Linked DNA regions of Homo sapiens. The protein of the gene in region 3 purifies or fractionates together with the protein of the main gene of each other region. This does not show direct contact. Each region holds a gene or a part of one and is shown on either strand. Other genes may lie near its edges.

What was found.
Region 1: the proteins of FGD2 (region 3) and TCERG1 purify together in Homo sapiens (affinity purification with mass spectrometry; one large-scale study listed by BioGRID and IntAct). This does not show direct contact.
Region 2: the proteins of FGD2 (region 3) and HP1BP3 purify together in Homo sapiens (affinity purification with mass spectrometry, with the first as the bait; one large-scale study listed by BioGRID). This does not show direct contact.

What each region holds. Positions count from the first base shown.
Region 1 is NC_000005.10:146,506,291-146,509,590, reverse strand, and holds part of TCERG1 (transcription elongation regulator 1), read right to left. Parts: intron 2,564-3,300; coding exon 2,384-2,563; intron 1,959-2,383; coding exon of another isoform or gene 1,851-1,958; exon of another isoform or gene 1,813-1,850; intron 1,719-1,812; coding exon 1,635-1,718; intron 447-1,634; coding exon 346-446; intron 1-345. UniProt on the Homo sapiens protein: Transcription factor that binds RNA polymerase II and inhibits the elongation of transcripts from target promoters. Regulates transcription elongation in a TATA box-dependent manner.
Region 2 is NC_000001.11:20,739,766-20,742,307, forward strand, and holds the end of HP1BP3 (heterochromatin protein 1-binding protein 3), read right to left. Parts: 3' UTR 501-2,542; downstream 1-500. UniProt on the Homo sapiens protein: Component of heterochromatin that maintains heterochromatin integrity during G1/S progression and regulates the duration of G1 phase to critically influence cell proliferative capacity.
Region 3 is NC_000006.12:37,003,988-37,007,823, forward strand, and holds the start of FGD2 (FYVE, RhoGEF and PH domain-containing protein 2), read left to right. Parts: upstream 1-1,667; 5' UTR 1,668-1,830; coding exon 1,831-1,898; intron 1,899-3,836. UniProt on the Homo sapiens protein: Activates CDC42, a member of the Ras-like family of Rho- and Rac proteins, by exchanging bound GDP for free GTP. Activates JNK1 via CDC42 but not RAC1.

The DNA.
Region 1 (3,300 bases), on a different chromosome or scaffold from region 3:
GATAGTGAAAGATTATTTTAAAAGTCTCTTCATGAAATACAATTCTTATATAGTTGAGGGTATTCCTAAAAAAAGCGGTGAAGTAAAAAAAAAAAAAAGGTATGTATTCAAAACTGGATGGGTGGGTAACACAAAATAAGAATTGACATCTGGGCCCTTTCTTTAAAAAAAAAAAAAAGTATGGTAGATATGGGCTGTATTTGACTTTGGACAGAAGTTGGTATCTTCTTATCCCTAAAAATTAATAATGTCAACATGTGTGTGAATGCAAAGAATGCTCTGACCATTAGAGTAAAGACTAGTAAAGAGAATGACTGCCAATATGAAACATTTCATTGCACACACCTATATGTTATAAATTTGGTCTCTTTCAAAAGCGTCCTGAAGTCAGCTTTGGCTGTGATATATTTGTCTCTGATATATTCTTCAAATTCTCTTTGTTTTTTCTGTTAATAAAAAAAAAAAAGTTGAGATTATGGAAATAAAACCCACTAATTCCAAAATAAACATCAATTATTTATTAAACAGTAATGTGTAAGTCACATAATAAAATTTAAAATTCAAAAGAAAAAGGCAACAGGGTACATTTTGTTCATATATAAAATTCATTAAATCACAATTTGCAAGGCTCATTTTTGCGGCAAATAGAAAGAATGAGGAATCATAAATTAGTAGTGGCTAAAACTTGAGAACTTGCTATGTGCTACACTGCTGAGCATTTTATGAGGATCATCTACTTCAATCTTCACAACAACCTCATGAGGTGGACACTTAAAAATAAGGATATTAAGGATTAAGTGTTCACTTCCTGCACACTGTATTTTTAACTTCAAGAACAAAAAGAGTAATTTGTGGATACAGCAACTGTAGGTTAACACTCAATACTTAACTTACACAGTAATGAGCATTTAGCTTTCTGGCAAGCCAAAAGTAATAAGATGAATAAACTCTTTGGACTTAAAAAAGACTTTATTATCAATTCTAAACAGTCAGAAAAGTTAGAAACTGAGACTGGGTCTACCCCTCTTTCCCAGTCATGCATATTTTATGGTCCAAACATCTACAATCCAATAGACTTTGAGGGGGAAGAATATTAGATTTATGAGTTTTTATAAAAGATGCCCAGACCTACAGAAACCAACCAGGAAAGGGGAATGATGTAAAAGAAAACAAATAAAAGGCCTAGGGATAAAATGGACTGTAGTAAACAACACTTTTCTTGACATCATTCACTGTTTCAGACCTTGAAGCATATGAGAACTAGCGATCTCATTACAGGGCTCTGTTTGGCTTAAGAGTCAAGTGCTTTGATAGTTTGGTACCAATTGCCAGCCTAAATATGTCTGTCTAGTGGTACCTGACTAAAATAAAACTGCAGCTTCATTAAATTTCTAAGATCCTAAAATACAAGCTTCACCCCAAGTACTAAAATTTTAAACTTTCTATTGTGCTGTCTTGCTAATTTATCATGCAAGAAACAATACATAAACTTAAAATTCAGATTTACTTCTCATACACTTAAAAGTAATTCACTTAAAACAATCAACTTCATTTTGGTTAAGATAGTAGTGCTGTTAGGCCCCGATTTAAGTATTTATAGACTGACAGTAAATCTCGACACAAAATCCTCTTACCCTGTCACTGGAGGAGAACTTAATACATCGAGGATCTTCCTTAATGATTTTTTTTACTTCTTTCCACGTGGATGTTAAGGTAATCTTTGAAAAGACATGAATAAAAAACATAAATACAACTCACTTTTACTTAGGGAGTCAAACTGCAGCACATAGGTACATAATATTACACACTGACCTGCGATCTCTTGTAATGCCCAAGCGTAACTGGACTAGTTAGGGACAGGGAAGCAGCGTTAATGCAATTTCTTTTTGTTGGCTTGCCACAAGAGTTATTTTCATGGCCATACTTTCAAGGTGGCCTAAGACAATCACCTGCAAACCCTGTATTTACATGGGCAAACATCATAACTTCTGAAGAAACCATCACCAAAAAGAGAGCAAATAAAAAGGAACAAAACCTGGATAACAAAGCGTACAAACTGCCGAACAAGAGGCCATAGTACCAAATTGAAAATGGATCAAAAGAAGAAATTTGCTAAATCTATTATTAGGAGGGATCACTGACCACATGGCTAAGGACATTTTGAATTACTATGGGAGCAGTTATGAATGTGAAAACTGCAAAGAATAGGCATTTCTAAATAAATAAGAATACCATAATTTTTTAAAATCAGAGAATTGTCATAAGATGCATTCCAGTAATGAATCTAAAGACCATGACACTAAAAATCATATCAATGCTTTGCTTTAAGAAATTACTAACAAGATTCATCCAGATTAAAATGAGAAAAATAAGAGATTCTTACTGCAGAAGTTTCATCCAGAAGTTGCCTAAAGTGCTCTCTCTTTTTTTTGGTAAGTGCTTCAATGTGTTCATTAAAAAGCTTCTCTTTCTCCTCTCTTTCCAATAAGGATCCAGATTCCCAGCGGTGATCTTTTCGGAGGGTCCTACGAGTATCAGACCATGACACATCTGAAGAACGTACCTGAAGAGAAAAAATTATATATATATCACCAAAGAGACTTATCTGAATGTCCATTTGCACTTCCATGTCCACTGCAGCATTATTCACAATAGCCAAGATATGGAATCAACCTAAGTGTCTATCAACAGATACATGGATAAAGAAAATGTAATAAATATACACAATGGAGTACCACTCAGCCTTAAAAAAAGAGGAAAATTCTATTCATTTATGGCATGGATAAACCTAGAGGACAACATAAGTGAAATAAGTCAAGCACAGAAACACAAATACTGCATAGTCTCACATTTGTGGAATCCAAAAAAGTTGAACTCATAGAAATAGAGAGTAGATGGTCACCAAAGTCTAGGGGGTAGGAGACAGGACAAGGGAGAGAATGAGGAGTTACTTGTCAAAGATAATGAAGTTTCAGAGACAGCAGAAATAAGTTTTGAGACCTACTGCACACCAGGGTTAACTAAAGCCAATAATGTATTCTACATTCAAAATAACTGAGAGTAAATTCCAAGTGTCTCACCACAAAAAATTATAAGCAAACAAAGTGATGAATATGTTAAACAGCTTTGGTTTAATCATTCCATATTATCTACCTATATCAAAACAGCAACTGTACCCCGTAAGTATATACAATTATGACTTCTCAAAACAATTTTTAAGAAGAAGACAGTATAATAGAAGGCATAACAGGTCTGGCTGGCTCACCAACCAGCAAAAAGATATGCTTCATTGGTGATAAT
Region 2 (2,542 bases), on a different chromosome or scaffold from region 3:
GCCACACTGACTTGACTATTGGCAAAGTTGGCAATAATTTCATTTCCAAGCCCTCTGCTCTCTTAAACATGTGCTTGGCTGGGCACAGTGGCTCACACCTGTAATTCCAACACTTTGTGAGGCCAAGGCAGGAGATCAACTGAGGTCAGGAATTCGTAATATGCCTGGCCAACCTGGTGAAACCCTGTCTCTACTAAAAATACAAAAATTAGCTGGGCGTGGTGGCACATGCCTGTAGTCCCAGCTACTCGGGAGGCTGAGGCAGGAGGGTTGCTTGAACCCGGGAGGCGGGGGCTGCAGTGAGCCAAGATTACACCACTTCACTCCAGCCTGGGTGAAAGAGTGAGACTCCATCTCAAAAATAAAATAAAAATAGTATCTGTACAGAGCCCGATGTGGAAGAAGCTCAGCTAGTGTTAATCGTTATGACTATTACTACTTACATTAATAAGCCAAACTTACAACTATACTTTATGAGACATACTCTAGGCACCACAGAGTTCTCTTTTGCTAAGCAAAGATTTAATAGTGAACAGTGTTAATTATACATTATATACAATATCAGGAAAAAAAAGAGTTGTAATTTTTGAGGAAAATCGCTTCAGCCTTTTGAGGCCTCCTTTGACATACCAGTGGTTGACAAGACAGAATTAAGAACAGTTAAAACAGTTAAAAAGCTGATAAAATTAAATCATCAAAGGTAGAAAGTTTTCCAACAGGAAAAAAGCCACTGAAGTTAACAGTCTTGTGGAAAAGAACAGAAGAAAGAATAGGGCCAGGTATGGCGACTCACGCCTGTAATCCTGGCACTTTGGAAAGCCCAGGTGGGAAGATCACGTGAGGCCACGAGTTCAAGACCAGCCTGGGCAACACAGTGAGGCCCCATCTCTAGAAAAGATAAATTAGCCAGGCATTTATTAGCTTGCCTGTAGTCCTGGCTACTTGGGAGGCTGAGGTGGGGAGAACTGCTTGAGCACACGAGTTCAAAGCTGCAGTGAGCCAAGATCACACCACTGCGCTGCAGCCTTAGTGACACAGCAAACTCCATCTCAAAAAAATAATAAGTAAAAGAATATAGTTATAAAGACGGTAGAGATTAATTTCTTAAGAAAATAATGCAGCTGATTAGGGGTACTGTTTAACCATCTGTAATGGCTTCTAAACAAATCTTTGTCAAGTGGTTCCTAAGCCAAAACTTCAACAGTTCTGCTTCCTTGGCTTTGGCTCTGCAGAAGTGAGTGACCATCTGTTCCACCATGAAAATGCAAAAGCAAAATCTACATGCTAGAAAGTAATGTCAACCAGAACCTCTGGGGAAACAGTTTAATGGTCTTTTCCAATTAAGAATAGAATTTCTTTTCTTTCATAGCTAAAATTAGAATTTTTGCTTAATCCAAAGAAAGATAAATTAATCAGGTTCCAAAGATAGGAGACCTTAACTATAATCCCAAATTTTTAAAGTTTCTCTTAGTTAAATGCAGTATTTAATGAACATGGCTGGTGAGTTTCGTTCTCATGACGTATCAAGATGGCAAGAGGGTCACAGCCTGAGAGAGAATAATTTCACAGGCTCTTTAAAGTAAGTATTAATTAAGAATTGGTTAGCAAACCTTGACAAGGGCTAACAAAATTTGGAAAAACAGCAATGATGAAAAAACAAATGTCAAAAGGTGTTAGCAGATTGTTTAGTTTTGTTTTCATGTCATTTTCCTGTTAATTATACCCAAAAGACATGATTAAAACATACACCTGTTTCCTAAGATTTATACAGGACCAGGTTTCCTTTAATTAAGTCCATGTGGATGCATAGTCAGAATCCATGTGCAATGAATGCTTCTGTCATAGTGCTAAGGAAAGGTCTCCACATTTCTCAACAATAGTATCTTTCCTTCCTCATTTTGTAGGTTAAGAAGCCAACAATCTCTCTCCCAGCACTTTCTGAGACTCATTTATCAAAGGTAGCTTGTAGGTAGTTTCAGAGTGTATGAAACACTGTAAATGAGGTCACTAAGCCACCAACAGAGTACTGAAGCTATTGATCCATGCTAGAGATTTCTGGGATTACCTCTGGGGTTTGTTGTTCCCCTTTCTGAACATGGAAGTAAAAATTATAAATGTGTTCTGCTCCTTTGGAATGCCTGGAAGGGAAAAATCAAACATTCTTTTATCTCAATGTAAGTAAGGCGTATGTCTTTGACAGTTGTGGATGTTCGTGGAAGAGTGCGATGACCTTCCTGTCTTTTCCCTTTACATCACACTGAAACAAACTGTCCTTATAGTTAACAGAACGTTAGAGTTGGAAGAAACTTTAAATGATCTAAACTTCTCAGCCTGTGCTTAAGTGCCTGGTGTGCAATACAGCCACCAGGTGATTATTCAGTAAGTCTCTTTAAAAGCAGTATCATAAAGCAAAGAAACCAACCAAAATCTCCCAACTTTTGATTCCAGAAGAGTACAGAATTCTGAGCACAGGTACCTAACATCCATACTATTAAGAATCATTACTTGCTAGAGAGCACAGGAGTAATTACTACAATTACTT
Region 3 (3,836 bases):
AGCTGAGGTTTGTTATGGTCTGGATTAGGGGTTCATGGGATGCATTATATGATTCTGTCTAGTTTTGCATATGTTCTAAATTCTCCATAATAAAAAGTAAAAAACAAAAATGGAGGTTTGTGAGACTTAGGGTTTGGGGCAGGGGGCCCGGCATCTGGTGGGAGAAACCACTCAGACGAGGCTTGGGGTGAGGGCGGCTGTTGGGCATGTGAGGCCCCAGGGGTTCACAGTTACTGGAGCGTGAAGCTGTTCCAGGCACTTCACGTACCAAGAGCACCGAGGCTCAGGCCCTGCACTCCAGGACACAGACCAGGTTCAGTGGAGAGCCCTGGTGGGACCAGAGCCCAGTGGGAGGGCCCTGAACGGCCTGTGGGGCTTGAAGGAGGGGAACAGAGGCAGCGTCCATTTGTTCTGTAAGGGCCGGGAGACCAGGTGGTAAAGGAGGCCTCAGGCAAAGACAACCCAGTGTCCTGGGATCAGGGAGGCCTGGGGATGGAGCAGCAAGAACATGGTCATCCAGGCTCCCAACGAACCTTTGCTGGAACTGTAGGACACCCACTTTTGCTTTGGAAATCCAACTTCTCTTGTATTCTTCCTGGGTGACCTTGGGCAAGTTACTTAACCTCTCTGATTCTGTTTCTTCCTATGTAAAGTGGGGATAGGAATAGTACCTACCTCATGAGGTTGTTATAGGATTAATAAGAAAATACTCATAAGCATGAAAAAGAGTGCATGTTAGCTATTATTATCCTCTGAGTTTCAGGGAGGAAACTGCCCTCCCTTGGGGCAATGAGGTGATGACAGCAACAACTAAAATGAGAGAACCCCAGTGGGGAGGTGGGAACATCACAGTACTCCCTGCCACCCTTACCAGGTTTGTGATTATTTTAAATAAAACATGCTGTTTCCTGGCCAGGCACAGTGGCTCACATCTGTAATCCCAGAATTTTGGGAGGCCGAGGCAGGAGGATCACCTGAGGCCAGGAGTTCAAGACCAGCCTGAGCAACATGGTGAAACCCCATCTCTACTAAAAATACAAATAATTAGCAGGGCGTGGTGGCAGGCCCTGTAATCCCGGCTACTCAGGAGGCTGAGGCAGGAGAATCGCTTGAACCGGGAGGCAGAGGGTGCAGTGAGCCGAGATCCCACCACCGCACTCTGTCTCTAAAGAATAAAAAAGACATTATTTCCTTACAGCTGTGAGCAGGGGCAGATGCAGAAAAGAAGGTGCTGGGAAAGAGGCCAAGTAAAAGCCACTGGACCTTCTGAAGGAGAAAGTGTGGTTGGCTGGAACCACTAGGCCAAGAAACCAGCCAAGGGTCTGGCTCCGGGTGGCCTTTTTTTTTTTTTTTTTTTTTAAGAGACGGTGTCTCACTATGTTGCCCAGGTTGGTCTTGAACTCCTGGGCTCAAGCAATCCTCCTGCTTCGGCCTCCCAAAGCACTGGAATTAGAGGTGCAAACCACTGCACCAGCCCAGACTGGGCTCCAGAAGCTACCTCTGGGCCCTGTTGCCACCTCTTAGGTGGCTTCTGGAATGGGGGTCTACAGGTGTGAAAGGTCAGCCCCCCTGAGGGAGAGGTGGGGCCCGAGCAGGCTCCTCCCACTGCGGGAGTGCTGGCCTTTCCCCTGCAGGGCTGTGGCTCTGGGACCACTTCCTCTTTCTTCACTCTGAAGCCAAGAGCCGACCTTCTGAGCCCTCAAGAAAGATCAGAACAGATTCATGGGTGATTTAGCCTATCTGTCCCAGGCCAGCGTGGCTGAGTGTGCTGGCTGGAGGCCTCTCTCTCTGCTTCGAGGGTAGCTGAGATCCACCCCGGAAACCGGCAGGATGAAGGGGGCAAGTGAGGAGAAGCTGGCATCTGTGTCCAACCTGGTCACTGTGTTTGAGAATAGCAGGTATGGGCAGCTGGGGTGGGAGGGTCACCATGGTGGGCTGGCAGCCACCCTCCAGCCTTTCTGGCAGCTCTCTCCCTGGGCCCTGCCCCGGACCCTCCTCCTGCAGGGGCAGCCCCGCGTTCCTCGGTCACGGATTCCTTGGAGCATGGGAGAGTGTCGGTGGGACACCAGGAGCCAGGCAGGGGTGAGAGTGCCAGTGTGTGTTGGGAGAGTCCAGACAGGTGTGGTTACGAGCAAGCATGGGCAGACCAAAGCCTGTGTGTGGGCACAGGACCCCACCCAGTGCCTGCCAGCACCTCTCAGAAAAGGTAGCTGATACTCACCAAGAATTTACGCCCTATGATTAGGATAACCATATAATTTATCATTCAGCACACAATTGAAACTGAAAGTAAATGCCAAATAAAATGTGGTGGTTGTGGGGGAGGCATTACAGGTAAAGCTGGGACCGTATGAGGCAAACCAGGATGTACGGGCAGCATCCTGATGGGGTACTCCCTACTCTAAGTTCATGTCCTTACTTATTTAATTTAGTCATCGAACAGCCTAATAGGGGTAGATTCTGTTTCTGTTCCCGTCTTATAGATGAGGAAATGGAGACACAGAGAGGTGAGGATGCCAAGTGCTTTAAGTATCTGGGGCAATGCTGGGGCGTCTGTCTGGAGGGAAAAGGCTGGGCCAGATGCGTGGAGTCATTGGTAGCCCTGGGAGCATGTGTGTTTGTGTGTGTGCGCGTGTGTGTATGTGTGTGTTGTGTGTTATGTGTGGCATCAATCCATTCTGCAGGCATTTCTTAAGCTCAGGACTGTGTTAGGGGCTGTCCCAGGTAGGGTTTTCTGGAAATAGACTCAGACAGAGGTTTGCCTCAGGTGATTTATCAGGGAGAGCTTTTGGGAACAACAGCTGTGGGTGTGAGGGAAGCAGGGCCGGGCAGGGGGAGATGCTGAACTGCAGTGCACCTGCCACAGAGGCCTCAGCCTGTCCCAGGGAGCTCTGGAGCTGGGATGCCTCTCGGTTGTTCCAGCTGAGGAAGAGGGCTGGGTATTTGTATCTCCATGTGGACTGGACAAGAGACTCTGGGTGAGGCAGCTCTCTCTTCCAGAGAGTGATTCCCAGAGAGGGACTCAGCCAATAAATTACCCGGCAGCCCCCAGTACTACCAGTAGCTGGTGGGGATGGTGTGGGGAGGCCTCATTCCTGAAGGAGGGACATGGGTGGCACAGCACAGCATCCTACAGGAACTGTAGAGGATGAAGAAGGGTTTCAGTATTTGGATGCTGAGCTCATCGAATAACTATGATGCAAGGTCATAGACAGTAGATGTCCTAGGAATGGCCCGGATGCTGTATTGAGGGCACTCATGGCAGGCAATGTTTCCTGTAGGCTTCAGGGTGGAGATGGCATAGATGTAGACCTAGAAGTCTTCAACTTCCTGAGCTGGGTGATTCTCCCCTGCCTCTCCCGGGATCTTTGCCAAGCTCGTCCTGTTCAGCACCAAAGACAGCTCTTGGGTGCCGCCTTCCTGGCCCACCACCCCCTTGGGTGTGGGTGGATGGTACCACCTCACTCAACATGCTTGACGTGGACTAGGCACACCTGGGTGGAGCCCCTCAGCATGCTGTGCTCTGCCCAGGCAATAACCCTGGCAGGAGTGGGCAGCCCTTAGACGGGAGTTAGGTCCCAGCAGGCATCAAGAGGGTGAGAGCCACTCCTTACTGAGTGAGGGGACCCATACCAACTGCCTTGGCCTGGGCTTCCTTATGAGGTCTCCAGCACCTCAGCTGATCTGAAACTGAGGGGCAAAGAGGAAACAGAAGCTGGCCAGGGGCCCTAGAACAGAAATGCAGAACCTGAAACCAAATGTAGAACAGAAAGCCTGAGAACCAGCTACGCCCATGAGCTGCAGACCCATGGGCTGAGAAACCAGGGACTGGGGTG